Regions from separate parts of the Homo sapiens genome. Here all the other regions are linked to region 1. Evidence: fine-mapped expression QTL. A gene starts in region 1. Each other region holds a variant in brackets. All regions are shown on one strand. Distances are from middle to middle.

Region 1 (9,969 bases):
TCCCTCCTTTCCTACCAACAGCCATAGGATTAAAATACAGGAGTTAATGAAAACATATGCATGTCTATGTATATCTGGTAGGAGCTGCATCTGTGACAGGCTTGGGCCAGGTACACAGGAACCCTGAGCAGGACGGCGTTCGAGCCAGCACCCTCCACACAGGGCAAGCCCTCCTCCGTCGGTAGTGGCTGCTTTATTTTATTTTGCCTGAAATCTCCCAAGAGCCCAACGGGGAGCTCTGCCCAGGAAACCGGTCGTGGAAAACGCTGCTCTGTGGCTTGCTTGGGACGGGGTGAGATCAGAGCCCAGGCTCTCTGCAGAGGGACCTTTCTGAGTCCACAGTTTGCTCTGCCCCCTCACCCCTAGGGGTCCCTGGCCACACAGTCACCTCTAGGCCTCAGTTTCCACAACCACATATGGGGGTTGACATCAGGCCACTCTGGATCCATGAAGTCGGCATGAAGAAGTGAGGCAGGCCCAGGCCTCGTCCGTGGAGAGGAGAGCCACTCAGGAAGTCAGGGGCCGTGGTGGACAGGTCGGCAGAGGGGAGGGCCCTGCTCTGGGCGTTGAGAAGTCCCCTTGGCGGGTGGTTCCTGGGCTGGGTTTGGAGGCACTCGGGGCTCATCTTACCCTCGGGGTGGGTGTCAGTGCCCCCTTCATGGATGAAGACACCAGGACTCAGAGCAAGGTGACACGTGTCCCTGCAGCAGGCAGGGTGAGAAGCCAGGTTTCTGTCTCTGTTTATCCAGCTGAAAAGAAAGTCTCTCCAGGCGGCAACCAAGATCGAGTGGTGAACATCTGCCGGCTGCAGTCCCGGCCATAGCCCTGGAGGGTGTGACTGGCAGGGTCAGGACGGGAAGAGGAGGAAGGTTTGCTGACATTCTTCCCCGAGCGTGTACCAGGCTGCGTGCCCTGCTGTATCCTCGAAGTTAATCTCCCAGGATCCCTGGGTGTGGGGGGGCTGTGGTTATCCCCTTGCAGGGAGGAGGATCTGCAGTTCAGAGGTGACATGCTCAGTCGGCCACACTGCTGAGCAGGTGACAGGGCAGGCTCCAGCCCTGGGAGGTTGCATTTCCTCTGCAGACCTCACAGCCCCCAGGGGGTCAGATCAAAACCTGACACTCTGTCCAAGCACCCTCCCACCAGCTTCTCCCCTGCAGCCTGGCACACGGCCCCTCTGTCCAGCCTCCTGTCTGCATTGTCTCCCCCTCCCCATGCTGGCACCCCATTTCCTAAAACACACTTGCACCTCCTACCTCCAAACCCTTGCTCATCATGCTGTGCCTCCACGTGGGGTCTGCCCTCAGCTGTGGGAAGTTGCCCATTCCTGAAGACCTCCCAGGAGGCAGTAGGAAATGGTGGAGATACTCAAGAAATACTTGTTATCTGGTTGAATTTGGGGCCAGGAAACCTGGGCCCTGTTGGGTCTTATCACCAGCTGTGTGACCTCAGGCAGGTTAATCCACCTCTCTGAGTCCCATGAAATGTACGAGTTATCCCATGAAATGCTGGTGCTCTCAAGGGAAGGGTGCCCTGGGCGGGACTTGGGGTCTTGAGTGCTGGCAGGTGAGGGGTTGGGGGTCTGCCCTCCCGTCTTGCAGTTGTGAGTTTTGGACCCCTCCTGCCGGCTTGGTAAGATGCAGATTCTGGAGCAGAAATCCTGAGCTCTGGAGTCTTTTTCATGTGTGTACAGTGATTCTCTCGCAGCCCAAGGCCTGCCCTCAGAGTGTCCCTGGGTGCGATGTCAGCCATGGAGTCTCTGAGGTGGGGTCTCCTGTGGTCCCAGGCTCAGGGGATAGATTGCCCAACAGATTGGCAGGCCTGGCAGGGCCCAAGAGGGCTCCCAGGACCCCCTCCACTTCCCAGGTGGGGCACCGAGGCCCAGAGAGCAGGGATTTGTCTGAGCCAGTACAACAGCTCCAGGACAAGCTGGGCCAACAGTTCAGGACTCCCTGCCCAGGCCTGGTCGGGGGAGGTCAGGGATGTCCTCATCGGCCTTGACTGGCCATGTTCTCCACCCCTCCCCTGCCCCCACTGCTGTCTGTATCTCCCCACCTGTGTCTGAGACTAGCACACAGCAGGTGTGAGCATTAGCACATGTGCCAGCTGTGGACACGGCTGGGAGAGCTCTTCCCAGCTGGGGTATCCTGAAGACCCATCATCTGGGGTGGAAGCCAGGCAGCTGCGGCGAGGGGGTTCTCCAAGGGCCAACTCTGGCAAGTCAGGTCCCCCTGCTCTGGAACCTGACTTCGCGGACGGGGGCTTGCAGAAGAACACAGGACCCAGGGCTGACCCCTCCCCAGGCAGACCCTGGCCCCCCATGCCAAAGAGAGAGGTGGGTATCCAGGATGGATCTGGGCTGGGCTCAGCAGGCAGGGTCTGGCAGGGGAGGGTACACATAGGGAAGCCCAGGGGGGCCTCCCAGGGATGGGAAGGGGGACGGGAATGGGGAATGGATGGTCACAAGCAGGAGGCCTGACACAGCCCCCACACGCCTACCGAGCTGTCTGTGCGTGTGTGTTGGGGGGACCCCTGCCCAGCTCCTGCCAGGCGCAGGTCCCGCTTTTGCCCCTCCCCTCCAGCCATCCTGGCAACTTCCAGGCCCTGTGACACGGCTGAGTCTGAGTGGTCCCTACACCATGAAGGCCCAGCACCAGGAAGCCCACCTTGGTATTCTGTCCCCCACTTTCCACTGCCCTTCCTCAAGCAGCAGTGTGAACAGTGTGGACACCTGCTGGGCCTGACGGTGGAGCAAGGGGGAAAGGCAGGGCTGCACTGGGAAGACCCTGGGGGCACCACAGGAAACAGGCCGGCCCCAGGCCCCTCTCCAGACATTGCTGGTTTGTTCCACTCCACTGCTCTGGGGCCTCAATGACTTTCAGTTTGTTTCGGAAATAAGAAAGTGCCTGTTGTTCAACCTGGCTCTGGCCAGGCCTCTGGCCTAAGAGTGATGGTGTGGGGGCTTGCCGGCCTCACGCCCACCCTCTCTCCACCCAAGAGCCACGCCCACAAAATGTTCAGAGCCAGGAGGACTAGCTCAAAGCTACTCTCAGTCTTGGACTGGAAGAGCCCCACCTCTTTCCACCGGAGGCCCTGAATATCAGAGTGGGGAAGGGCAGGGGGCAGGGATGGGAATGCAGGGAAGACAGTCCCCCAGAATCTAAACTTGGGGTCAACTTGGGGGTTCTAGGCTCCTTTCACCTCTTCGCTACTCTCAGCACAGGAATTTTGAGTACATATTTTCCATGTACATAAAGGGTTAGCTTGAGAAAAAGCAAGACCCCTCCTTCTCATGCAAGAAGGAAGTTGTAACCCGGAGGCCCAGGGTGCCCTCCGTCCAGCATTGTGGGGTGGGGGAGATGGGGGAGGGTGTCAGGCAGGGTGAGGGTCTGGAAGATACCCCCAGCCCCCAAGCTCAAGGACTGACTGCGGCACCCAACATTAGATTACAAAGGTTTATTTAGAAAATAGTTTGGTTGTTTTGGCTGTTGTTTTTGGCAAACATTTAAATACTTTCAGTAATCAAAGATTGTCGGTGCTTTCTCCTTGCCCCCTGGCAGCCACCCCCCGACTAGGTCCTGGAGAAGTCAGCCCTTGGTCAGACGGGGATGGGGAGTGGTAGTGTCTTTGGGGGGCTCCTTGCTTGCCCATTTAGGGGGCTACCTCTGCCACTGCTCTCTAAAACCCTGACCTCACAGCCACACCTCGGCAGGGCTCCCAGAGCTGGATCCAGGCAGGGAGCCCCAGAAGCAGCCCCTTGCTGAGGGGGGAAGGCAAAGGGGTCTCCCCCTCTCTCCTCCCCACTCCCTGGAGCCCGGCTATCTCTCTGCCAAGCTCCTGCCCTGCCGCACCCTCCCCTGCGCCCTGGAGGCCAATCCATCCCCGGGTCTCTGGGAAAGCTCCCCCGTCCGGGCCGCCCCTTCTGCCCAGCCCCGAGCGCGGAGCTGTCCAGGATTCCCAGACGGGTGCGAGTCACTGCCTGAAGCCCCTTCTCCTCCGTCGGAAGAGGATGTGCTTAAAGGATCGCCGGAAATCCTGGTTGAAGACCGTGTAGATGACCGGGTTGAGCGAGCTGTTGCAGTAGCCGATCCAGAAGAAGAACTTGAAGAGCGGGCCGGGCACCTGGCAGGCCTCGCGGCAGATGCCGTACAGGCTGTAGCTGAAGAAGAAGGGGAACCAGCAGAGCACGAACACGCCCATGACCACAGCCAGCACAAAGGTGAAGCGCTTCTCGCGCGCCTGGGCCACCTTGCGGCGGCACACGCTGCTGCGCGCCCGGCGCCGGCGCGACAGGAAGAACTCGACGGAGCGCGAGCTGGCGCGCGACAGGCGGCCACCGGGCCCCGGGGACCTGGAGGCGGTCAGCGCCCCCGACTCAGCCGCCCCCGGCCCCGCCCCCTGCCCGTCCGCACCGCCCGCGCCCCCCTCCGCGCCCGCTCGCCGCCGCCCGCCCCGCCGCAACGCGCCCCGGCGCCGCCGCCTCTCGGCCGCTGCGCTGCTCTCGTCCGGCTCCACGTCGGCGGGCGGGGGCGCGCAGTGCCCGTTCTCGCCTGCGCCTGCCGCCGCGCCCAGCCCGTTTTCGGTAGTCGGGGACGCACCGTCGGGGCCCACGGGGGCGCGCTTCTCGCTGAGCGTGCGCGTGCGCAGCTTGGCCACTCGGTAGATGCGCGCGTAGACCAGGCCCATGATGAGGCAGGGCGCGAAGAAGGAGCCGATGCAGGAGGACAGGATGTACCAGGTCTCGTCGTTGAGGCCGCACTGCGGGTAGGCGGCGCCGTCGGGCTGGCGGTAGAGCGAGACCAGCGGCGGGAAGGAGATGACGGCCGAGATGAGCCACACGGCCACGATGGTGGCCTTGACGCGGCGTGGTGTGCGCTTCAGGTTGTACTCGACGGCCTGCGTCACCGACCAGTAGCGGTCCAGGCTGATGGCACACAGATGCACGATCGACGAGGTGCAAAACAGCACATCGAGCGCCAGGTACACGCCGCACCACACCTGCCCGAAGTACCAGTAGGCCATGAGCTCGTTGGCCAACGAGAAGGGCATGACCAGCGTGGCCACCAGGATGTCGGCCGAGGCCAGCGACACCAGGAAGAGGTTCTGTGGCGCGCGCAGCGCCCGGCTGGTCAGCACGGCGATCACCACCAGCACGTTGCCCACCACGGTGAAGACGATGAGGAAGCCCACCACGGCAGCCAGCCCTGCCACCGCGCCCGCCGAGTACTGGCCGCGCGGCGGCCCCCAGGAAGCCCCCGAGGCATTGGCAACCCCGCCGCTGCCCCTCTCGCCCGCGCCGCTCGCATTGGGGCCCGCCGCTGCCGCCACCGCCAGCGCCGCCGCCAGCGCCGGGGACGCCATGGTCCTCCCGCGAGCTACGCCGTCCCTCCTGGAGCCGGGGCGCAGCCGCGGCAGCTCGGGCGCCCCCCAGCCGGGGTCGGCGCCCGCATCGCCGCCTGCTGCTCGGGCGCGCCCGCCGGGGACCGCGGCGCCCAGCAGCCGGCCCTCGGCCGTGGTGGCTCCGCGGGCGGCGCGCCGGAGAGCGTGGCTGCCGGGCTCCCCGCAGCTGCCGAGCGTGTAAGTGCAGAGCAGGAGGCGCCCGGAGCGAGCGGCGACGCGGCTGCGGGGGGAGGGGGGCAGGTCCCGGGGTCCTCGCGCGGCCCCGCCCTCGGCCCGGCTCACGGGGAGCGCCCCGGCGTCGAGCCCACGGCGACGCGGCGCCCGAGCGGGCGTGCCTGAGCGGCCCCGCGGTCCCGGAGCCCAGCCGGGGCGCAGGCGACAGGCGGCGGCGGCCCGGGCGCTCCGCCTCCCATCCGGCCGGCTAGGGCTCGGCGCGCCGGGGCGCCGGCCGCCGCTCCTCCGGGCCCCCGCGCCCGCGCGCTCCCTCCGTCTCCAACTTTACTTTCCCGGGCGGGGCGCCGGCGCCGCCGCGAGTCCTCCGGCTGCTCCCGGGCGCGGGCGCCCCCCGCGGTCCACGCTTGGCCGTGCGGCCGCCGCCTCGCTCGCCGGAGCTGCGCCGCCGCCGCCGCCGCCGCCCTGCGCTGGGCGCGAGTGCGGCCGCCTGCGATCGGCTTCCAACTTGGGTCGAGTTGCGCAGCGGGGCGGGCGCGCGGGGCGGGGCGGGCCGCGGGCCCTGGGGAGCTGGCCGGGAACCGGAGCCCGCGGCCGCCTGGTCGAACCTGCCCGCGCGGCGCCGGGGAGGAGTCCGGGGCGGCGGCGCGGGGCGCGCGCTCGGCGAGGGCGCCCCCTCCAGGGCCGCCTGCAGCCTGCGGGACGGGGCCGAGCGGCGGCCGGCCTGGGTGGTGAGTTCCAGAAGCTGCTCTTTCTAAGACTGGAGCCTCCTTCGCCTCCCCCGGCGCAGGCATGGGCGCAGGCGGGGGCGCGCACACGCGCGCGCGCAGCACGGGCGGCTCGGGGTCCATGGCCTGATGGCAGAGCAACCTCTCGCAGCCTGGGGGAGGACGCGACGCTACCTGCGTGCGCACAGGTCCTGCCGAGCTCAGGGTCCGGACCAGATCCTGGATCGGCGCTCCCCGTCAGAGCCACCTCCGCACCCACCCCGGCCTCAGTTCCCTCGGCCCACTTCCCAGCGCTGCTGGAGCATGAATCATAACTAACGGCGGTGTCTGTGGAAGCCCTGGGCAAGCTCCCAAGCTCTGCACCCATGTTAGCAGTGATTGAAGTTTAATCCTTAGGCTCTCAGGCCCTGCTTTTAAAGGATGGAGAGGTGTTCAAAGTCACCACCTCTGACAAACACCCAGAACGGAGCTGCCTGGATGATGGAGCTTTTTGCAAGGGTGGGCTCAGGGGAGAGCGGCCGTTGAGGTAGCCCCCGTGCACCCTCGCCCCCGTCCGCGCACCTCCATTCTGCAGATGTGCACTGCCACGTGCACTGCCACTCTGTGGCCCATGTTGGGTGCTGGCTTCTGCCTCCAGGCAGCCTGGGGTCTGTGGGAGAGGGACTTCCAGGGACGAGGTGATCCAGGAGGAGAGCTGGAGTTCTCAGGCCTGACGTTTCTCTGCTAGGACCGAAGGGACGACCCTTCTCCCAAACGTCCAGAAACGAACCCCAGCTGGCTGGCCTCTCCCTGCATGGGCCCGCAGGAGAGAGGGAGGGAAGGTCTGTCCATCCTGTGGCTAGAACCGGCGGGGAAGGGGCGCTTCTGAGTGCCCGGGAGGTCATCATGAAGAGCGGCTGGAGTGACTGCCCTACCCCCGGGATGCCTATCCATGCCCGTGGCCTGGGGCAGCTTCTCTCTGAGCTCCTGAAGGGCGCCAGCTTTAGCCTCAGAGCCTGTCGTGTTCTCTGCTGCTCAGCCCTACTGGGGAGCATGTCTGTCTCCGCAGAGACACTGCCAGGAGCTACGGCTTCGTTCTTCACCATGTTTGTCACCAGCAGGGCCTGCATTGGGGGTGTGGAGGCCGAGCCAGGGCCCGGCAGAAAGCAAATATTTCAGATGATGGGCCTGCCAAGCAGGGGCGCACGTTGGAGCCAAAGCCTTCTGTGCCAGTCCTGTGCTAGTCTAGGGCACATATGCCCTTCGGGGAGGCAACAGGCCATGGCTGTCCTGTGGGAGGTGTGTGACCTGGGGATGGTGGAGGGTCACCATCCTTACTAAAGGCCCTCCTGGTTCTGGTTGCCTAAAAGGTGCCACCTGTCCAGGGCACCTGGAGGTGCATTTTTCAGGGAAGCCCACACACACCTGCTTCCTTCATGGTCGGCCCGCTGGAGCCCTTGTCTCTATTGAGCCCTCTGCGATGGCAGAGAGTGAGGGGGGCCTGGCCTCAGTTGAGGTGCTCACCATCTGTGGGTGGATGGGGCCACCCACTGAGGTGAATGCGCTGACAACCATCAGTGCCCTGGGGCTCCTCCCCCAGCCTGGGAGCGGGGTTGTCAAGGAAGCCTTCCTGGAGGAGGTGACCAAACTGTGCTTAGAGAGTGAGGAGGTGTTATGAGGAAGGGGGAGGCCTCTGTAGGCTGTCCTTCTTCCAGTGGGAGTGGGCTTTGTACTGGGGGCGTGGGGAGACAGGAGGACTAGGAAAGAGCAGTGGCAGGGGCCAGATGCAGGCTTTGGAGAAGGTCTCTCTCCCTCGGCATCAGCGTGCCTCCCACCCCCATCCTGAAGGGCTCTCTTTTTGAGAAGTGCTTTGGGGGATGCGCAGGGGCATGGGGATCTATCTAGGATCCTGGCTCCTATGTTCCCAAGAGATGGCAGCCCAGGCACGGGAATTTGGAGGGAAAAGGACACGGAGCACCTGGGGCCCTGAGCCAGATGAGCCTCCCACTGCCCAGGAGGGCTGAAGGCAGGGGCCACTCACAGGCCAGGCTGAGGGCATCTGGAGTGCCTGGCCAGTGAGCGGCCCAGGCCCTTGGGGATGGCAGCCAACAGGCTGACATGCTGCTGGCAACACCTCCTGGCATGACCAGGGAGGGGTCAGAAGGGTCCACTCCAGGGCCTGGATGGAGCCAAGGGCAAAAAGCTGGGGCCTGGAGTCATTAGGAGGAGCGAAGCCCTGGGCCATGCATAGGGGTTGCATTGCACGCAGGCCTGCCTGTGGTGGGAGGGCCCGGGACCGCAGCTGTTTGCAAGGAAGCTGGAGAGGACTCTTCCCCCAGACCTTGAAATTAGGCTTGAGGAACTGCTCCGGATTGTCCGTAACAAGCAGAACAGCACGTACCCAGCAAGACTTCCTGTCCTGACGAGGCACGACGCGAGCTGGCACGACCAGGAGGGGCGAGGAAGGAGGGTGCTGGGGGAGTCAGGCTGCACTGGCGGGGGTTGTGGGGGCTGTCTGTGTGTACGTGTGCAGGGGAGTACATGGCAGAAGTGGGCATATTTCAGAGGGGAAACCTACAGGTGTTTCCTAGAACTGAGAACCTAGAAGTGGCACGTCCTGGAGCTGCAGAGGCGAACCTGCCTGTATCTCACCCATGATGCGTGGGGCCTAGGAGGACAGGGTTGGTCCAGCAGGGCCATACAGCCATGGGACATTGGGCCCTGGCTGCTGTGCCGGAGAGAGCTGGGTGCCTGCCTGGGATGCCGCGCTCTAGGCTTCGTGAGCAGCCTCAGCTCGGGTGGAGGGGAGTTTGGCTCCTTGAGCCCCCTCCCTGCACATGCAGGCATGCATGCACATACGCAGATGTACAGTGTCCACACACATATATGTATCCACACACATCCTTGTGCACACATAGATCCATGCACACACATGAATATACATATCATGAATACACGTGTGTTCATGCAAGCATGAACACCCATACATACACATATCCACACATGCATGCAAGCATGCAACCTATTCATGCACACTTGCATGCCTTCACACACACATGCATGCACACATCCACACACACACTGTCTACATATACCATGTGGATTTACAGTGCATCCATGCCTACAGAATATACACACATGTATGCACACATACATGTTCCCACACATGCACACATGCCTGCGTGTGCATACACATGCCCGTGTACTCTTCACATGCAGGTGCATATATACATATGCACTATCATACACACGTGCTTTTTGCACACGTATGTCTACACATGCATATGTATCACACTGGCATATGTAGAAATGATGCACCCATGCTGTGCACACACCTGTGCATACTGCGGGCACGCACAGCCTTCCCTGTGCAGATAACACGAATCCATGCACATTGCACACACGTGTGTATGCCTGTGCTGCACACATCTGTCCCTATGCATGACACCAGTCATGCATGTGCACACATGGCTTCGCATATATGGATGTGTACACACATATGCGGCACCTGTGGCCTTGCCCACCCTCCTAGGCTGAGGAGAAGATGTATTTCTGGGTTGCTGCTGCAGCCAGCTCTTCCGGGGCTGCGGCTGGGTTCTGCCTCGCCTGCCTGGTCTGCACAGCTCCACCTGGCTCCTGCGGTCAGCCCTCCTCTCCACGCTGTGAGCTGTGAGGACATTTCTCATTAACT
Region 2 (9,969 bases), 130 kb after region 1:
TGGGGCATCCCACCCAGCCTGGGCTGACCCTCGATCCCAGTCCCGGAGCTGCCTTAACGAAGACCCACAAACTGGGAACTCAAACAACAGGAATGTTTTCTCTCCCTGTTCTGGAGGCCGAAGTCCCAGATCAAGGTGTCGGCCTGACGGTGCTGCCCCTGGGGGCTCCGCGGGAGGCTCCTTCCTCTTCCTGCCTCTTCCAGCTTCTGTCGCTGTCTCCACATGGCCTCCGTCCCTGTGTGCGTCTCCCCTCGTTTCTGATAAGGAACATGTCCCTGGATTTCGGGCCCATCCACGATGGCCTTACCTCAAGATCCTTCACTTTATAGCAGCTGCAGAGATGGCTTTTCCAAATAAAGTCGCATCCGCAGGATCTGGGGCTGGGGATGTGCTCATATCATTGAGGGCCATCATTCAACCCCTCCAAGCCCCTAGGTCTCCTCGGGCGGCCGAGCTTCCCCAGCACCCGCCACCTGGAGTGTCCTCCCAGAAATGTCAGAGTCTCTCCCCTGAGGGGCTCCCCCATCCCACCTGCACAAGGTCCACCCAATCCCACTTAGGGCCAGGGGTTGAACTTCGTCCAGGAGTGGCCTCCCACTCTGGTGGGGCAGGATGTGTTCCCGCCCCAGCCCAAGGTGTGCCAAGGCCTCACCTCCCCATGACAAACGCCCAGCAAAGAGGCAGTGAGTGTGGCATGGGGGTAGGCCACTCAGCTCTGCTCCTGCCCAACTGTGCAACCTTAAGCAAGTGCCTGCACCTCTCTGAGCCTCGGTCTGTCCCTCTGTGGAATGGTATGACCAGAGCAGTTCACCCACCTCCAAGGTGTCAGCCTGTCTGTGAGTCAAACAAGGCCAGAGTGCCTGGCAGCCGGGCACCTCACTCAGTCCACAGCTGTTGTGATTAACCTGTACTGCATCCAGGGGACAGGCCTCCCAGGGCAGTGGGGAAACCCACACCCCATACACAAATCAGCCCCATGCCCCAGCAACAGAGCAGGTCACAGGGAGGGGCAGGGGCTGGGCAGGCCGCCCCAGGACCCCCACATCCTTGCTGAGCCTAGAGGAGGAGGAAGAGGGCATTTCCTGTGACAGCGTGGGGGTGGGGGAGGTGGGGAGAAGCCTCCAGGCAGAGAAAGGTCACCTGGCATCGCATCCAGAGACCATGTGCCCTGGGCCTCCTCCGGCTTGTGGGGAATTTCAGCCCTCACCCTCAGGGCAGTGGAGAGCCAGGACAGCCGATGGGCTTCCAGCTGCTGGAGGGGTGCAGAGGAACCGCCCTGCACATGTCCCAGCAGGAGACCACCCGGCCTGAAGGACGGGCTGCCAGGCCTGGCTGTGTCATCTGGAGAAACCAGGCCTGGAATGCTCCAGCCTCGTCCGGCAGGCAGGGGTGACTAAAGACTGTACCTGTCCCGCCTGCCTGCACAGGGTGGTTTTTATCTGGAGAAAGCACTTGGCCCCATGCAGACACACTCAGTACCCCCCGTCCCCACACTGATGTCCTTCCCTTAACACGGGCCTGGAACCCGCAGAGGGTCCAGCCAGCTCCGGAACTAAACTAATATGGAGAAACCCCCCAACCCGAAGGACAGAGACCAAATAAACCTTCGGAGGAGGATAGAAGAAGGTGGCAATGGCGCTTCTGTGGGGCAGCCTGGAAAGTAATCCTCTCTCCCAGGCACACGGCATCCTGACGGTGGGACAAGAAGAAGATGCCTGGAGAAGAGCACAGAGCACGTGAGAGCCCCGGAAACCCGCGCAGAGCACGCGAGAGTCCTGGAAACCAACCCACACAGAGCACGCGAGAGCCCCGCACACCCGCGCAGAGCACGCGAGAGTCCTGGAAACCGACTCACAGAGCACGTGAGAGCCCCGGAAACCCGCGCAGAGCACGCGAGAGTCCCGGAAACCAACCCACACAGAGCATGCGAGAGCCCCGCACACCCGCGCAGAGCACGCGAGAGTCCTGGAAACCGACCCACGCAGAGCAAGCGAGAGCCCCGGAAACGGACCAACGCGGAGCAAGTGAGAGCCCCGGAAATCGACCAACGCAGAGCACGCGGGAGTCCCAGGAAACCGACCTGCGCAGAGCACGCCAGAGTCCCCGAAACCCGCGCAGAGCACGCGGTAGTCCTGGAAACCGACCCGCGCAGAGCACGCGAGAGCCCCGGAAACCGACCAACGCGGAGCACGCGAGAGCCCCGGAAACCGACCCGCACGAAGCACGCGGGAGCCACCGCTTCATTCCACGCACCACCCACTTGCTGGGCGTCTTCAGAGTTCTAAAAACCCAAGAAAGAAAAAGATTGGAAGAGGAGGTGAAGATGTCCCAGAAAGTGGAATAAAAATGTACCGAGATAAAGCGCAGAGACAAAGGCAAGACCCGAGCACTACAGTGAGGCCCAGCTGCCGGGGAGAAGATTTGTAGAAAGTTCCAGAGTGGGAAAAAATGGAAGGGAAAATGGAAGGTGCCCAAGCACCATTTAGGAGAACACTTCCCAAAGCTCAGGCCAAGCAAGTCCATCTGGATGCCTTGGAGTCCCTCGCCCTGGGCAGGGGGCCCACGTTTAGCCTTCTCCTGGTACTGTTTTCATAAACGAGGCTCGGCCACTTCCCGTCCGGCAAAGCAAAGCCCGCGCACCACAAAGGACGGGAGCACAAAGGCATAGATTTTCTCTTCCTTATGACTTTCTTTTCTCTCTCTCGCTCTTTTTTTTTTTTTTTTTTTTTGTGTGTGTGTGTGTGACGAGGTATCACTCTGTCACCCAGGCTGGAGTGTGGTGGTGCAATCTTGGTTCACTGCAGCCTCCGCCTCCCAGGCTCAAACGATCCTCCCACCTCAGCCTCCTCAGTAGCCAGGACTGCAGGCACATGCCACCACAACCAGCCAATTTTTGTATTTTTAGTAGAGATGGCGTTTCACCATGTTGCCCAGAGTGGTCTCAAACTCCTGAGCTCAAGCCATCCACCTGCCTCGGCCTCCCAAAGTGCTGGGATTACAGGTGTGAGCCACTGTGCCTGGCCTTTTTGATTTTCTTAACATTTTCTCTTCTCCAGCTTACTTTATTGTAAGAACACAGAATATAATACATGTAACAGACAAAATATGTGTTCATCAACTGTGCATGTTAACGGTGAGGCTTCCGGTCTGCTGGTGGCTATTAGTGGTTATGTCTGAAGGGAGTCCAGAGTTACATGCAGACTTCTTACTGCTTAGAAGGTGGGTCCCCCTAACACATACACACATGGACACACACACACCTGGTTTTGTTTCACTGGAGAACCTGACATACATAGAAAATAAGCAAATGAGAGATGGGCAATTCGCTCCAGGAAAACAAGATCAGGAAAGAAAGGGACGGAGCATCGCACAGTAGAACAGCTGAGTCTTCTCTGAGCCAGGCAGGTCTAAGCAGCCCATGCTCCTTGGGGAGCCCTTGGCCAGCCTCCTCGTCCCCACGGACGGCTTTGTCCCTGGGGGAGCCACGTGTGGGTGACTCAGGAACAGCAGCTGAGTCACCGTCACGGTCCCAGACCGCCCCCTCTCTGCCCCTCTCTGCTGTTTCCAGGGCCTCTTCCCTCCCATTCCTCCACATGACGTTCTCAGCGTTGGCCGCCCTAGCGTCTGCCCCAGGCTAACTGATTTGACCCCATGGCTTTGAGACTCCCGGCTCGTCCCTGGTCCACCCTCTTTCCATCTTGTCTCTCTCCTGTGCCTTCTTCCCGTCCACCCTCCTTCCAGAGCTGAATCTCCCGGGGGTCCTCCACCTGGAGCCCCGTGCCCACAAACCTCAGCTTTCCTGATCCCGCCTGAGCCCCTCTTCCCTCCCAGGCCCTTTTGCTCCTCCACAGCCTGCTCTCCTGGGGCCTGGCCTCCTCCTTCTCCCTCCCACTCAACTTCTTAGCCACATCTTGCCAGCCCCTCCCTCCTCCCACCCCATGCCATCAGTCGCAAGCCCCCAGGTGCCCCCTAAGCCACTCCTCACCCGCTGTCTTCCAGCCTCTTCCCTGAGCACTGGCACCCTTCGGAAGGAGCTGAGCTCTTGCTTCCGGCCCCTCCTGTACTCCTCATCCCCCACAGTCCTAGGCTTTGAGTCTAACCACATCAGCATCTGCTCTAGAACCTTACTGAGCTCCCCGTGACCCGCCAACCACCACCCAGAGGCCTGCATTCCAGGCCTCCCACGATAAACTCCGTTTGCTACCAAAGCCTATACCCGACTCTGCACTTAGCAAAGCTGCATCACCTATGGAAAACGTTCTGAAAATACCCCAGATGTTCTTACCTCTGACTCGGTCACTCACCTTCCCTGGCTCACCTGTGCCATCCATCCTAGACCAAGGCGAGGCTTCCCATGGGCTTCCCGAGGAGCCCTAGATCCTCGTGGACTAACTGCACAGCCAGCAGTAGCCGGAGCGGTGCTGCTGGTCAGACAGACCTGGCTGGAATCCTGGCTCCACTGCTTTCTGGCTGCATGTCAAGGTGCAAGTCACTGTGCCTCTCTCTGGACCTGTTTCTTCATCTTTAAAGTCAGGGAAAAATTTCACAGCACCTCGAGGTGGTTGTGAAAATTCAATAAAATAAATAATATATGCCCCCCACCTATTGCAGAGGCCGGGATGGGGCCAGTGTTTATATCCCAACCTCACAATTTGGCACTGAACATGGACATCCCAGGCAGCTGGGCCCCGTGTGAGCATCCTGACTCCCCAGGCAGGCTGCAGACTCAGAGCAAACACTGTGCCTTCCTTTGATCTGTTCACCCCTTGGGCCTTCATACAGCCCGA[C/T]GCCCGGCAGAACCACCAGAGACTGAGTAAGGGAACAGTTGGGAAGTGTTTGTTCCTCTTTAATTTTCTGGAAGAGTATCTCTGGAATTGGCATTCTTTCTTCCTTCGATGTTTGCTATGATGCACTATTGCAGCCCTCTGGACCCAGAAGTTGCCTTATGGAAAAGTGTTTAACTAAGAATGCAATGTCTCTAATACCAGCATGGCTATTCAGGGTCTCTGTTTCTTCCAACGTGAGCTTTGGTAGTCTGTGTCTTTCAGCGTATTTGTCCATTTCATCTAAGCTGTCAAATGTACTGGCCTAAGGTTATTGACAGTATTCCCTTGTTATCACGGAAGCACCTGTGGAGTCTGTGGTGGTATCATGTCTCTTGTTCCTGATAGTGAAGCTTTACATCTTCTTTCTTTTTTTCCTGACCACTACAGCTAGAGGTTTATGAATTTTATTGATATTCCAAAGAACCATCTTTGGGTTTCATTCATTTTCTCTGTTGTTTTTGTTTTCCATTTCACTGATTTCCACTCTTATCTTTATTATTCCGTTTCTTCTAGTTATATTGGGTTCAATTTGCCCTTCTTTCTTCCGGTTTTGTGATGTGGGAGTTGAGTTCATTGATGTGAGACCTGCCTTCTTTCCTAATACAAGCATTTGAATGCTATACAACTCCCACCAAATACTGCTTCAGCTGCATCCCATAAATGTTGATATATTGTTCAGTTAGAAACACATTCTAATTTTCCCTTTGATTTCGTCTTTGACTCAAGAGTTCTGTGGAAATGTGTTAGCTGTTTTCCAAATATCTGGGGATTTTCCAGATGTCTTTCTGCTGCTGCTATTGATTTGTAAGTTAGTTCCACTGTGGTCAGAGAAGATATTTCAAATGATTCAAGTCCTTTTAAATTATTAAGTCTTGTTTTATGACTCAAAATATGACCTGTCATGGCAAATGTTCTGTGTGTGCTTGAAACGAAGTGTTCTGCTGATGTCAGGGTAGGGTTTCCATAAACGTCACTTAGGTCAAGATGGTGGATGGAGTTCAAGTCTTCTATATCCTTGCCAGTTTTATGTCTACTTGAGTCAACTTTTGAAAGATGAGTGTTGAAATCTCCAATTATAATTGTAAACTTCCATCTTGCTTTGTAGTTGTTTCGACTTGGAAGGTCTGCTAGAAGGTGCATAAACTTTGAGGATGTTATGTCCCTCAATGAACTGACCTCCATGGCGTCATGAAGTGACCCCTTCATCCCTGCGGCCATTCTTACTCTGAAGTCTACTTAGGGAGTAACATCTCCACTCCAGCTTTCTTTTGATGAGTGATTGCATGTATGTCTTTTTCCATTCTTTCAGGTTTATCCTATTTTGCCTGCATATTTAAAGTTTTTTATGCCTATCATATTTTGGTTCTTTCTTTTTCTTTATCTGGCAAACTCTGCCTTTAAATTGAAGTGTTTAGAACATTTATATTTAATTATTAATGATCACTTTTAAAACTGTCGTCTTGCTGTTTTTTCCCCCTTTTTTGGGTTCCTGTTTCCTCTTTTTCCACCTTCTTCTGAATTCATTGGGAATGTATTACGGGTCTATTTCATGTCCTTTGCTGGCCTGGCCACGGCATCCCGCATTGAAGCCTGGACATTCTCTGCAGGCAGTGAGCTGGGGAGGCGCTGGCTCGCAGAACGGGTTTCCTGTCTCTTAGCAATTGCGCTCCTTGGCTGAACTGCAGCCAATGTCATGAACGCCATGTTTCATTTGTTCTCTCTGGAGCTTTGGCTGTTTTTTATTGCTCCCTGTTATACCATTTTGGCTGGAATTGGAAATCTCTGAAAATCTCTTTAAAATTGAGTCCATTGGAGCCAGCGTCTCTTTGCTTGCAACCAAAGACTTGGAACTGAGCCTCCCCCTGCTGTCCGAATCCTGTCCACCCCGCCGCGGCCTGGCATCTCCGCCTCTCCTTCAGGTCTCCCTTCAGACACCAGCTCCTCCAGAGCCTCCTGGCCCCAACGCCTGCCTTAGATGCCTCACCCATCCCGGCCCCTCCCCACCGTGCCTCCGTTGTCTGCCTCCTGTTGACCTCCCCCACCAGACTTGGGATTCCTTGAGCATGGGGACTGCCCCATTGCCTCACACTGTGCCTGGCACATAGTGAGTGCCCAGCTGGCTTGTGTTCACCAAATAATCAGTGATTTTCACTTCTCCTACCCATGAGATCCCAAGCCTTTCCTGTCTGGAAAGAACAAGGCACACTGGGGAGAGCTTACCTGCTGAACCCTGGCCCCCACCTCACCAGCTTCAGAGGCAGGAGTGCAGAGTGGGTAAGACCGAAGACCAGGGTCAGCGCCTGGGTTTGAAGCCTGTCCTGAACAGGTCTCAGCCTTGTGGCCTGGGGCGAGGTCCTCGCCTCTCTCATCTGATGTTCCTCCGTGACTGGTAACAGTGGTCATCGCCTTAGTCCTCTGGAAGACCAACCAGTGCCTGCCCAGGGTTGGCAAGTGCTGGACGGATACATGCTGTCACTGCTGTCCTTCCATCACCACCCCATGATGCAGGGTACTGTGCTGGGCACACCAGGGAAGAACACAGACAAAAGTCTCTGCCCCACGGAGACAGCCCACACACAGGAAACCAGGCAAGTGAGTCACACAGCACATCAGGAGGTGGTCATGCTATGGGGGGAGATATCAACATGGAGCAGGGGGCAGGAGCAAGAGGAAGAGGTGCAGCAGGGGCAACATTGAGCCCGGTGGGTGGCGTGGGCCTCCTTTGAGATGGGACTTGGAGCACGAACTCCAAGGAGGTGGCCATTATCAGACTTGCATTTCAGAGCAATTGCCCAGCTGCTCGTGGAGAAGGTGTTGAGATGGATGGGGTTGGGGGACTGTCCCCAGTGAGATGCAGATCAAGGGGTGGTACTGACCACATTGTCAGGACAGAGGCAGCCATCGGGAGGACTGTGAGACTGTGTAGTATATATGTGGCCCTGTCCCTGTTTCCCAGCATACAACTCCTAAAGCCCTTGACTCTCTGGAGTGGTGAGAGTGTCTTCTGTGTGCTCATGAGCTGGCTGGGGGCTGGGGTCTCCTAGACAGCTTCAGGATGGAGCTGGTCACCCAGAAAGACCAGGCATGATTAGAGGATTAGGACTTCCAGCCCCACCCCTTGACCTCTAGGAAGGGGAGATGGGAGGGGCTGAAGGTTGAGTTGATTGCCAATGGCCAATGATGCAATCAATCAGGCTAGGAAGGGGAGATAGGAGGGGCTGAAGGTTGAGTTGATTGCCAACGGCCAATGATGCAATCAATCAGGCTAGGAAGGGGAGATGGGAGGGGCTGAAGGTTGAGTTGATTGCCAACGGCCAATAATGCAATCAATCAGGCTAGGAAGGGGAGATGGGAGGGGCTGAAGGTTGAGTTGATTGCCAATGGCCAATGATGCAATCAATCAGGCTGAGTAATGGAGCCTCCATAAAACCCAAAGGACTGGCTCAGGGAGCTCCTGGAAAGCTGAACACACAGAAGTGCCTGGAGGGAGTGCCCAGGACGGCATGGAAGCTCCATGCCCCTCCCCAACACTTCACCCTACGCATCTCTTCATCTCTATCCTTCACAGTGTTCTTTAGAATAAACCAGTAAACATGCATAAAGTGTTTCCCTGAGTTCTGTGAGCTGTTCTAGCAAATTAAACCCAAGGCGGGGGTCGTGGGAACCCTGACTTAGAACCAGCTGGTCAGAAGCACAGGCTATGCCGGGACTTGCCATCAGCCTCTAACGTGGGGGCCATCTTGCAGGACTCAGCCCTCATTGTGGGCTCTCACGTCACTCCAGGTGGGACCAGCATCTGAAGGGCGGGGCCATCTTGCGGGACTGAGTCCTCACTGTGGGTTCTCACGTCACTCCAGGTGGGACCAGCATCTGAAGGGGGCGGGGGCTGTCTTGCGGGATTGAGCCCTCACTGTGGGCTCTGAGGCTCACCCTGGGTGGACGGCATCAGGTTGGAGTTGAATAGAGGACCCCCGGCTGCTGTCCACTGCAGGACCACTTGCTGGTGGGGAGAAACGCACATGTTTTGGTGATCAGTCAGCTGTGTTGACTGAGGATGGGAGGAACCGTTTGGTTTGTCCCTGTGTTTTACAAAGGCTGATGTCACTGCACCGACGGACGGGCCTAGAGTGGTGAGGGGAGAGGCCTGGTGGTTTCCCGCTGCTCCCGCCCTTCGCCCTGCCTCCCTCGCTCCCTGCTTCTCAGCACTCCCCACCTCCATGATGGTTTTGAGGCCCTGGGCCTCAAGTTTGTTTTGCTTCAGCCCAAGGTAAACATGCCTGTTTAATTTATGGAGAAACATCTGCAGAGTCCAGTTTTATGGCTTGTTCTTTGAAACGATCACTTCGGATACATAAAAAATGAGGTCAGTAACATTGAGTCCCAAAGCAAAGAGCCGGCCTTTCCGGGCTCACCACGTAGCTTCCTCCCCGGCCCTGCTCATGGCCCTGCCTGGCTGTCTCCTCTGCCTGGAGGCCTCTCACTCACCTTTAGGGTGGGCTCCTGGCAGGGCAGGGTGGCCTGAGGGGCCTTAGGGAGGATTTAGGGGTGAACACCCAAGATCCCGGGTCCATGAGATTCCTGGAGCCAGGAGAAGGTGGCTTCACCACTCAATTCAGTCATAGGGACCAGCCAGGCCCAGTCCCACAGATGAGGAGTCCTGGAGGGTCCTAGGCCTGGTAAGGGTGGTCCTGGTTCTACAGGGGGTCCCCTGGAGAGTCCCGTGAGTACTTGGGGGAGATCCCCTGGTGGGCAAAGCAGCCCACGAGGGAAGCACCTCAGCCACACCCCTCCCTGGTCAGCTCAGGTCCTCAGGAAGCAGATGCTGAGCGGACCTGGGGCATGCGACAGGTGACAGTAATGCCCAGAAGAGATGGGGCGTCAGGAGTCACCCGACTGGCCTGAAAATCTGATGGCACCTCCAGCGCCACGGCGAGCTCTGGGGCCAGGGCCACCTGCTGCAGGGACCACGGGTTGAGTGGCAACATCCAGGCCCCAGCCACTTGCATCTCAGCCACTGGAAAGGTAGGGGCCTCTGGGGGGCTACCCTGTTCACAGATCTTTCTAGGGGAGACCCCAGAGACGGCCTCCCTGGAGCCACATTGCGAGTGGCCAGAGCCGCATCCCGCATCACGCCCTCTGAGGG
Region 3 (9,969 bases), 54 kb after region 1:
GAAAGGAGTGGCTCCCAGGGGAGTGAACTCATGGCGGGAGAGGGGGAGGGTGAGAGATGGTTGCTTTTTAGGATAAACCTGTGAGAATGAGTTGGCTTTTTAAATTATGTACTTAACATAATGTTTCCATAAAATAAAAAACTATAAGCAGGAAGCTGCTGATTTAGAAATTGGTCATGTGCTTTCTGTCTGGAAAGAGCAAAGCATTTAGGGCAGGGCCTCCCCAGAGCCCCCACCGCCCTGCACTCAGGCCTCCACCCACCGCTGGAGGTGGATGCTGGGACCCCACTCTAGTTGGTGCAGGGCCAGACCTGCTCAGCAAGAGCGGAGGAGGAAGTCATCAGAGCCCTGCCTGGTCCAGGGCTGGTGGAGGGAGGCCCGGGCAGTCTAGCCAGATGGGGCAGAGGTGCTGTCTGGGCCCAGGTCCAGTGACCCAGTCAAGTTGACCCCTAACATCACCCATCACAATGACATGGTGGGGTCCCAGGAGGGCCAGGAAGTCCTCTAAGGCATTGTTCGTGCTGTTCTCTCGCCTGTAACACCCTTCCTCCTGCTTCATACAGCAAATTTCCACTTCAACTTCAAGACCAAGTTCCAGCATCCCCTTGGGAAGGCCTTTTCTGACCCCATGACTGGACCAGGTGCCCCTACATGTTACTGGCCTTGGGCACCCCTCATTCAGAGCAGTGGCCTCATGGTGTCCCTACTCATCCCGCCAGGGTCCCCAGGACACAGGAGGCGCTTGACAGGTGTTTGCAGAACAAGCCTTGCTTCTGGCTCACAAACCCTCCCCAGGAGATGTCGGTAACGGCGGCAGCTGCTGCAACTACCTTCAGTGTCAGAGCTCAAGCCCCAGGGCCAAGGTCCCCCAGCAGGATACATATCTGTTTGGAGACACACTCCTGGAATGTTCCCTGCCTGGCTTCTGTCTCCCCCAGTCCATGATTGCAACTCACAGGGCCTGGCCCAGGGTAGGAAGACAGAGAACAGTGGGCCAGGTTCAGCCCTAGATGTCCCTGGAGGGCCCCCACCGACTGCTCCCCTAAACAGACCTACCCAGGAACCAGAGCCCGGGGGGACCTGGAACCCCCTCATCTCCAGGGCCAGCCACCAGGCCCCGGTCAGGAACAGAAGGAAAGGTAGACACATCTGACAGCCTGAAGAAGGGCCCACAGGGACAATGGCCGCTCCTGGGAACGAAGCCCTGTTTGGGGCAATCTCAGACCAAAGAAAGCCACACATGACAGAGACCCTCAAGCTAGGGGAGGGAGAGGGGGCTCGAACAGCAGCAATTCTCTCCCGCACGGCTCTGGGGGCTACAAGTTTGGAAGCCCCCAGGGAGGATCTTTCCTGCCTGTCCTGGGTTCCCAGCTGCACGGTTCCGTCTCTGCCTCTGTGGTCCCGGGGCCTCCCTGTCTGTGTCGGTGCCACCTCTTCTTCTTCTAGGGACACCTGTCATCGGGGCAAGGGCTGGTCCTCGTCCAGTACAACCTCAATTCTGCAAAGACCCTATTTCCAAATAAGGTCACCCTGTGGGGTTCTGGGTTAGTGCAAGGTTAGCTCCAGGATAGCCAGGCCAGAGAGGCTGAGCCAAAATTAGCCTGCGGGGGACACCCCTGTCTCGTGAACCCCCGGCCACTCTGCTCCATCCCTGCTTCTAACACTGCTGAGCAGGAAACTGTGGCCTCTTGGCCTGGGGCTGACCATCTCCCGTCCCAGAATCTCCAGATCCTTCCTCTACTACCAGACTCTGTCCAAGGGCCCAGCCACCAGGCACAGGAGTGCCTTTCCCAGCATCTACAAGAGGTAGCCTGGCATCAACTCCCCAGGAAGACAGCCCCATGGGCAACGGGAGCTGGAGGGCGTCCTCCCCGTCCTCCTTCTGAGGGGATTGTGCCAGGCATGGCACGTCCTCATCCCATGAGGACGTCTGGCTGCTCCCGGGGACCACGGCTCGCCCGTTAGTCACCTGCGTCGTTTCTGCCTTTCCCTGACTCCCCTCCCTTTTCCTCCCTCTTGCTGCCCTGAAATTGCACCCTTCCCTCCCCAAATAAACCCTTAGCGCTTAATCCATGCCTCAGGCTCTGCTTTCTAGAACTCTTAGCAAAGATGAGTGGCAAGGGCAGGGAGGAGTATTTCAGTCAGAGGGAACAGGCTGTGCGCCCGGTGGGGAGACGCCCTCATGCGATACGGTAGCAGGCCCAGGCATGGGATCAGCTATCCTAGTGAATTCCTGGCTTTGCCATTTCCAAGCTCACCGTGACAGGCTCCCAAGTCTCCCGAGCCCCAGCCCGCTCTGTACAGGAGGGGCAGTGATGCAGTGTCACCACGGTACGCGGTTGCTGGGCTGCTGGAGTGGGTGGATCTGTCAGCAGCGTGGCTCGTGGGGAGGCCTGGCTCCTGGGCCTTGCCCCCACCGGCCCCCAGACCCAGGAACTACAGCACAGGGATGCCCCCCACTGACCCCAGGAAGGGCGGCCTCCAAGGTGAGAAGCCCCGGCGCACCCACCTTTCCCAATACTTCCTCCAGCTTCTATTTGAAAGCCCATGTGTAACTGGAGAGCCTCGTGCGGCATTCGTTTCTCATTTGCACCTGCCAAGGCTGCCCGGAGCCTTTCCTCGTTCTTTCCAGTTGTTTGTTGGCTTGTTTTTGATCAAAGTCAGGAAACTACTTAAAAAAAAAACAAGGCTAGTGAACTGGAAAATGTGGAGTTCAAGTTTGGGTCAAAATAACCAACTCTGAATTCAAGGTAAGCTTATGGCTCCAAGCAATTAGTTCCAACCTGATCACAGCTGTGTGCATTCACACACTGACACACAGAGACACACACACATACACACATCACACATGCACATGCTCACACACACACCCTCCACAGACACGACACACACACATGCACACACACACACAGAGACACATACACACACACACACCCTCCACAGACATGACACACACACAGGCACACACACACAGAGACACATACACATCCACACATCACACGTACACACACACCCTCCACAGACACGACACACACACATGCACACACACACACAGAGACACACACATCCACACATCACACATACACACACACACACACCCTCCACAGACATGACATACACTCACAAACACACATGCACACACACATACAGAGACACATACAGAGATACAGAGACATACACACATCCACGCATCACACACATGCACACACACACCCTTCACAGACATAACATACACCCACACACATGCACACACACACAGAGACACATGCAGAGATACACACACACCCACACATCACACACATGCACACACACACCCTCCACAGACATGACACACACGAACACACATGCACACACACACACAGACACATGCAGATACACACAGAGACACACACACACCCATGCATCACACACATGCACACACACCCTCCACAGACATGGCACACACTCACAAACACACATGCACACACACAGAGAGACACATGCAGACACACACACACATCCACACATCCACACATCGCACATATGCACACACACATACCCTCCACAGACATGACACATGCAAACACACATGCACACACACACAGACACACACATACACCCCACAGACACGACACACACCGAGACTGCTGGACAGGCCCAGGCAGCACAGAATAGGGAAGGAGCTGGGCAGAGCCTGGGGTAGTGCCATGGCAGTCCAAGCAGGGTCTGTGTCCATGGTTTGCTGTGACCCCGGCCTCAGCTCTCACTGCTGGAGCAGTCATTCCTGCCATTTGCTGATCCCAGGGGTGCTGGGGTTTGTGCTGGAGTCACACAGCGTGCCCTTCACTGTGCAGCCAGGGAAACTGAGGCAACACTGCAGAGTGAGGCCCACAGCGGCGGCAGCGGCTCTCAATTTGGGTTTGTGAACGTGGTGGTGAATTTTACGTGTCAACTTGATTGAGCCACAATGTGTCCAGATATTTGGTCCAACATGACTCTGGCGGTGTCTGTGAGGTGCCCCTGGACGGGATTCACATTTGAATGGGCAAACTGAGTCAAGCAGATGGCCCTCGCCAGTGTGGGAGAGCAGATTGGCCTCGGCCAATCAGTTGAAGGCCCAAATAGAGCAGAAAGGCTGAGTAAGGGGAGCTCCTGCTGCCTGACGGCTGAGCTGGTTTTTCGCTGGCCTTCCAGCCTGCACTGAACCATTAGCCCCTCCTGGGTTTAAGTCTCCAGCCTGCCAGCTTCCAGGCTAGAACTGCACCGTTGGCTCTCCCGGGTCTCCAGCTTGCCACCTGCAGATCTCAGGGCTTGTCCACCTCCAGGGTCCAGTGAGCCCATTCCTGACAATCAATCTCTTGCTATCTCTCTATACATATCCGTCCTATTGGTTCTATTTCCTGAGAGCCCTGAATACAGGGAGTGAGGGGCGTGTGGGCTTTGAACCCGGCTCAGTGGGACTTTGCACAGTGATCATTGCAGCCCTGAGATTCCTGGGACACACATACCACACACCAGCCACAGCTCTGGGCACTTGGCTTGTAGCCGCCGCGACACTCGTCTGTAGTTTATAGGGGCACACAGAGGACTGAGGGAACGTGCTGGAAGCCATGCAGATAGCAAGCGACCGAGCCGGGGTTTGAACCTGGGCGGGGGCCAGCTCCAAGGCCTGTACTCTCGACCTCTGCCCCAAGTCTTGTGGCCCCCGTGACCAGGCGACTCTGGCCTTCTGGGCCTGCCCTACTCTAATCGCCTCAGTGGCTGCGCTGGCCCCGCAGTGGCTGTGCTCTCAGAGGCAGCAGCGGGCAGTGCTGCTGGGACCGTCTTGGAACTCCGCTTGGGTGTGGGGACTGGCCGGGGCAGAGGGGGAGGAGTGGGCGGCTGGACAGGATGATGGGAGCAAGGTGAGGGTCACAGGGCCCACAACTGTGAGAGGTCCCGGCTGATGTGCCAGTCAGCATTCTCCACTGAGAAACAGCTGATGGGAGAGAGGTCCATGTTGAGACATGTATTTTAGGGAATCAGCCCACGCAGTTGTGGGGGCTGGCAAGATCCCCCTGCGGATCAGGCTGCAGACCCAGGCAGGGCTTCTCCACCACAGTCTCCAGGCAGAATTCCTGCTTCCTCCACGTAGGCTCAGAGTTTGCTCCGAGGGCCCCAGTGGATTGGATGAGGCTGCCGCAGGCTATGCGGGGCCATCTCCTTTCCTTAAAGTCAGCTGACTGCCAATGTGCGTCAC[A/G]TCGCAAAACACTGGCACAGCAACCTCTAGACATGTGTTGGGATCATGGGGGACCACGGCCTGGCCAGGTTGGCACATACAACCGAGCAGCATGGTTGGGAAGGGACCACAGCAGGCTTGGAATTAGGGGCTCCAAATTCCAGCACCAGCTACCAAGGTTTCTGCAACTTGGAGATTGTTGCGCTAGGTGTGGCCTCAGTTTCCCCATCAGTAAAGGGGGGATCCTGTCCCTCAGTATATTCCATCCTCCCTGTGCTATAGAGAGCAGAGGAGAGAAGACCTAGTCCCTGCCCTGAGTCGAGGGGGGCCTGCTGGATTTTGATGTCTGTGTAGGAGTTTGCTAGGCACCCCAGGGCAAGGATGTGCCCCAGGTGGCCGGGTCATGGGGAGAAGCAGAGGGTGTTGGGGAGGTGGAGGCAGGGTGGGCTGGCTCTGTCCTTCTCCCTGCCACAGGCTCTGGTTTGGGGTGAGGAGGAAGAAGTTTGTTGTCCACAAATATGACCCCGTCATTTCCCAGCTCAGGGACTGCCTATACAGACAACATCCGAAGACCCCAGTATGATTTCTGGGCTGCGTTGGTTAGGGGAGCGCACTGGGCTGAGGCCAGCTGGGACGAGGACCCACAGGGTAGGGACGGGGTAGACAGGGCCAGCCCTGGACAGCCCCGCCCCTGGTGGCCCCAGGATGACCACAGTTGGATGCTTGAGTTCTGGGGTGTCCCCTAAAGCAAAAGCCTCGGTGTTGCCGTCATAGCTCAAAGCAGGTTTGGGGCAACTTTGTGATACTCCTCATGGTACGCCCACCTCACTTCCACCACTGGTGACGTCGAGAGCCAGGTAACGACGCCCCATCCAAGGGCCGTGAGAGGGAGTGGTCTGAAAGCACCAACACCGGGGGCTGGCACAAGGTCTCACTCATTCATTCCTGCATTCATTCATTGAACAAATAGGTCAGAACTCCTGCTGTGGGCCTGGCCCTGCCTGGACTCTGGGGAAACCGGAACAAACAGCCAGCCTCACACATCCCTGCCCGCCGTGTAGCAGACCTTGGGCGGAGGAGCAGGCAGCCTCTGAATAGTCAATCCACGGCCAAGAAGGTCCACAGAGGGCGAAGACGGCCGCACTGGGGACGGGACGGGGCGTCTGTGCGGGTCTCCTTCTCCTCTGCCCGAGGGGTCTGCTCCCACCCTCTTTCTTACCGAGCAAAGCATGCCCAGACCTTGATAAGCTCAAGCCTGCTCCTGACCACGTGGAAGGGAGCAGCTCCACACGGGCCAGTCAAACTCTGCAGACAGCACAGGCTTTGCATGTGGGAGACAGAGCAGCCGGCTCCATCACCAAGTATGTTGCTGATGCTCATTTTCTCGGTTTTTTTTTGCCCAAAATGTCAAATTGCTCTGCTGCGTGCTCCTGATAGAGGCCTGACAGGGCCGTGGGAGAAGCACGGTGGAGGGTGGTGCTAGGAAGACAGGGAGCTCGACGAAGACCCTGGTGGGACCCCTAGGGGATGTGGATCTGGAAGCTTCCTGGCCACCCCAGGAGCTGCAGCTGAGGAGCTGGCAAGGGGGGTTGGGTATGCCATAAGTGACACAGAGCAGGAGCAAGAACAGGCCAGGCTGGCCTCGAGTGACCCTGGACACATGCCCCCTCCAAGCCAGGCCCCACACCTGCAAAATCAGGGTGGGTGGCCATCGCCACCAACACAGCGAACCCGCAGCAGGACCCCCTTCACTCCAGGGTCCCCACTGCCACTCTGTGTCTGAAGGCCCCCCGCAAGGAGGACCAGAACCTTCTGTGTGCCTCCCCGCACACACTGAGTTAGAATTCCACTGGAATGCGGAGCGTGGTCAGGCGTGACCTCCCTCCATGCCTCCTGACAGGAGGCACAGCCTTCTCCCACTCCCCCACCGCGGTGTGCTGGACTAGCAAATTCCAGAGCAGAGAGGCTGTGGCCATGGAAACCTGGCAGACCTCAGATTCCCCGGGACAGGGCAGGAGCAGGGCCGGGAAGGGCCTGGCAAGCCCACTGCGGGGGGTGGGTGGGCAGGATTGTCAGAGGATGGCCACTGTGGCAGAAGCCTCAGAAGATCAGACGCTTCCAGAGTCTGGACGAGCCGCCTTCCCGGCCGGTGCTTCCCGGCTCTCTGCCCCCTGGGTGAGTGTTCTAGGTGGGGCTCCTAGAAGCAGGGATGGGTCCAGTCTGATCCCTCTGGGTGTCCCAAGTGCTGGATACATGGTTACAGGGCAGCAATGTGGGGCCGCTCAGCTCTCTCCTCCAATTCTCTGGAGGAAAGCACCAAAGCAGGCTCAGAGAGGAGAAGCCACGCCCCCAAGGTCACACAGCTTGGACTCTGCGGAGCAGAGATCGTAGTCCTGGTCCTTCTGACTTCCAGGCAGCAGACAGCCCCGAGGCGTCCCAGAAATTAGCGCAAAGTTCTGCAACCGGGTTAGGAAATCATCACCCTGCAAACCCTGGAGCGGGGAACTTGGTTGAATGAAATTCAGGTCAGGAAGGCTGGAGGCCTCCGGGCCTCCTCCCCTGGATGAGCACGCTAGTGCTCCGGACGAGGCTGTGAGTCCGCAAGCCTTCGGTAGAGGATTCTGGCTGCTTCCTTGTGTCTGGGGCGTGAAATCCTGACCATGACCTTCAGGAAGCTCGTCCCCCTGCCAGGAGGGCTCCATTGGCCCTGGCCCAGGTCCTCGGTGGGTTTTCACAGTACCTGCAGCTCCCCTCACCTACTCCATGACAGCCAAAACAACCCCAAACAGAGACCGATTATTAATTTGAGCCCTTCTCACCTCCTGTTACCCCCAAAATGCATCCAGACCTGGGGAGGTTGTGGGAAGGGGCCTCCTTTTCACAGTCCTCCAGGTCCCTCTTAGCACAAAACAGCATTTTGGGGTGCGGCCTTGCTCCTAGACCGTGGTGTGGACAATCAGCCAAGAGTGCAGCACCCCTCCCTGAACAACCCCCATGACGGAGGTGGTCCCGAACACGTCGCTCCTGCTGAATCATCACCCCTAGCCCAGAGCCAGGCACTGCAGGCCTCAGCACTTCCTTGTTGAATAAATATCATGGAAGGAAGCCCTAAGAAGTCAGTGGCAACAGCTCGTATATGTCAGAGCAGGCGTCTCTAGGCTCCCTCCATTTCCGTCCTAGAATTCAATGGCTACCATAACCCCCCATCCCCAGTAGCTGATTCCAGCAGCGAAACCCTTGTAATCCATGTCCCAGTGGGAGTCCCATGCCACACATTCACAGAGGGCTCCCACGGCCAAAGTCTGGATATTAATTAGGATCCAAGAGTGTGACGTGATGAGCAGTTCTGAGGCCTGGATCTTTGCTTTCACCTTTGAATGTGTGAATCATGGAAGTCCGGGCAGCCTGGAGATGTGCTGGCATGCCTGGGACCTGAGCTGGTCTGAGGTGGAGCAGGTGGGTTTCTGATAAATCCTATATGCCTGAATGTGTGAGTGGATGGGTGAGGGGATGTACAGGTGGGTGGGTGGGTAGGTAGCCTGGGGAATGATTGTGCAAGGCTGGGGGAGTGGATTGTGGTTGAATAATTGGATGGATGGATGGATGGATGGATGGGAGGGCCCAACAAGGGGCTGAGAGGCCTGCAGCCCAGCCCGCTGCCACCAGCACTGGCTGAGGTCCTTGGAGGGTGCAGTCCCAGCAGGAGGGTTGGGCATGGCTCTCTGCCGGCTTGGTGTCCTTCTGGGGCACACAGGGATGCTGGAGGCTCCATCCTGGTTTTGAGACCCCAGGGTCAGAGGCTCCAGGTAGCACCTGCGACATCCTGCACTGAGTCTTGCAGAATGGGATGGGATGCAGGTGGTGAGGGGAAACTCTAGTGGGCCGAGTGCTCCAGAGCGAAGGCGGGCTGGGGTATCTGCAAGGGCTGGCCTGTTGGTCCCTCCCTGATGTGAAGCCCTGCGGACCTCCATCCCTTCAGTGCTGGTGGGTTCGTTCACCCCTTCTGCAGTAAATTCAGGGTGGACAGGGGAATATCACCTTCCCCTTTAAAGAAGAGGAACCAAGTCCCAGGAGGGCAGAAAGACTTCTGGGGGCCCTTCCACCCTGCAGAGGCCAGAGGCAGCTCCGGCCCCCTGGCCACCTCCCCGTTCTGTCTCCACGATGGTTTCAGGAGGAAGTGGGCGTCCGCGGAGGCAACCACATGGCCCTTGGCTTGGCTGTCCCCATCACCAGCCCCCAGTCCCCTAGGGCGGGGCCAGGCTCTATTTCGGGAGTGAGAATGGAGAGAGGCGGGGGAACCACAGGCTCCCCAAGGGACTGCTGCCTCACAGGAGTCATCCAAAAAATTCCTGCCATGCAGCCCAGAGCAGATGGAGCCAGTGTGTAGCCAGCAGAGCCCCCAGCGCAGTGGCTGGAGGAGGGAGGGTGCGTGGGCGTGGGGCGGAGAGAGCCTGTACTGGGAGCCAGAGGCCTGGGTACAAAGCCTACAGCTTCAGTGTGCTCTGAGAGAGTAGGCAGAAGTACCTCCCGTAGGCCTCGCTCTTAGCTCCTAAATTGGCTCACGCTGGCCACAGCTCACACTTGAGGCCCCACACCAGGCACTCATCTGCCAGCCACCCCTGCCTGCAGGAACTACCATCGGCCAGGACCTAAGTTGGATGGATCTAATCACCCCATCTCCAGACACGCTGTACTCGCAGCCTCAGCTCTCTGCCCTCTGCTATTCTGCCCGGTATGACCAGAACCACCCTGGACACAACCCTCCGCCACTG

Which allele goes with the higher level. Positions count from the first base shown, and alleles are read on the strand shown. Sizes are in standard deviations (SD) of each study's normalised expression. Not every link is listed here.
As copies of C replace T in region 2, the expression in adrenal gland of the gene that starts at base 5,583 in region 1 goes up (moderate effect, 0.70 SD a copy in GTEx).

What was found. PIP is the estimated chance that this variant, and not a neighbour inherited with it, causes the effect.
Region 2: its variant is the best candidate, but not a certain one, in a credible set for the expression of ADRA2C in adrenal gland (GTEx, PIP 0.68).
Region 3: its variant is the best candidate, but not a certain one, in a credible set for the expression of ADRA2C in cerebellum (GTEx, PIP 0.85).

Annotation. Positions count from the first base shown.
Region 1 is chr4:3,761,999-3,771,967 of GRCh38, reverse strand. It overlaps ADRA2C (adrenoceptor alpha 2C), which reads right to left and starts at 5,583. Exons shown (of 1, transcript NM_000683.4): 1 at 3,442-5,583. The coding sequence starts at 5,361. The coding sequence ends at 3,973. RefSeq lists enhancers at 425-1,110, 1,111-1,796, 2,483-3,168, 3,361-3,878, 9,911-9,969.
Region 2 is chr4:3,634,324-3,644,292 of GRCh38, reverse strand. LOC112268461 (a long non-coding RNA gene) reads left to right here and starts at 8,935. Exons shown (of 4, transcript XR_002959775.2): 1 at 8,935-9,502; 2 at 9,626-9,848. RefSeq lists an enhancer at 712-1,243 and a silencer at 3,300-3,483. The variant C/T (reference allele first, on the strand shown) is at 4,788.
Region 3 is chr4:3,707,862-3,717,830 of GRCh38, reverse strand. No RefSeq gene overlaps it. Among named protein-coding and RNA genes, the nearest start is that of LINC02171, 35 kb to the right of the region's middle. RefSeq lists enhancers at 3,280-3,779, 3,780-4,281. The variant A/G (reference allele first, on the strand shown) is at 5,219.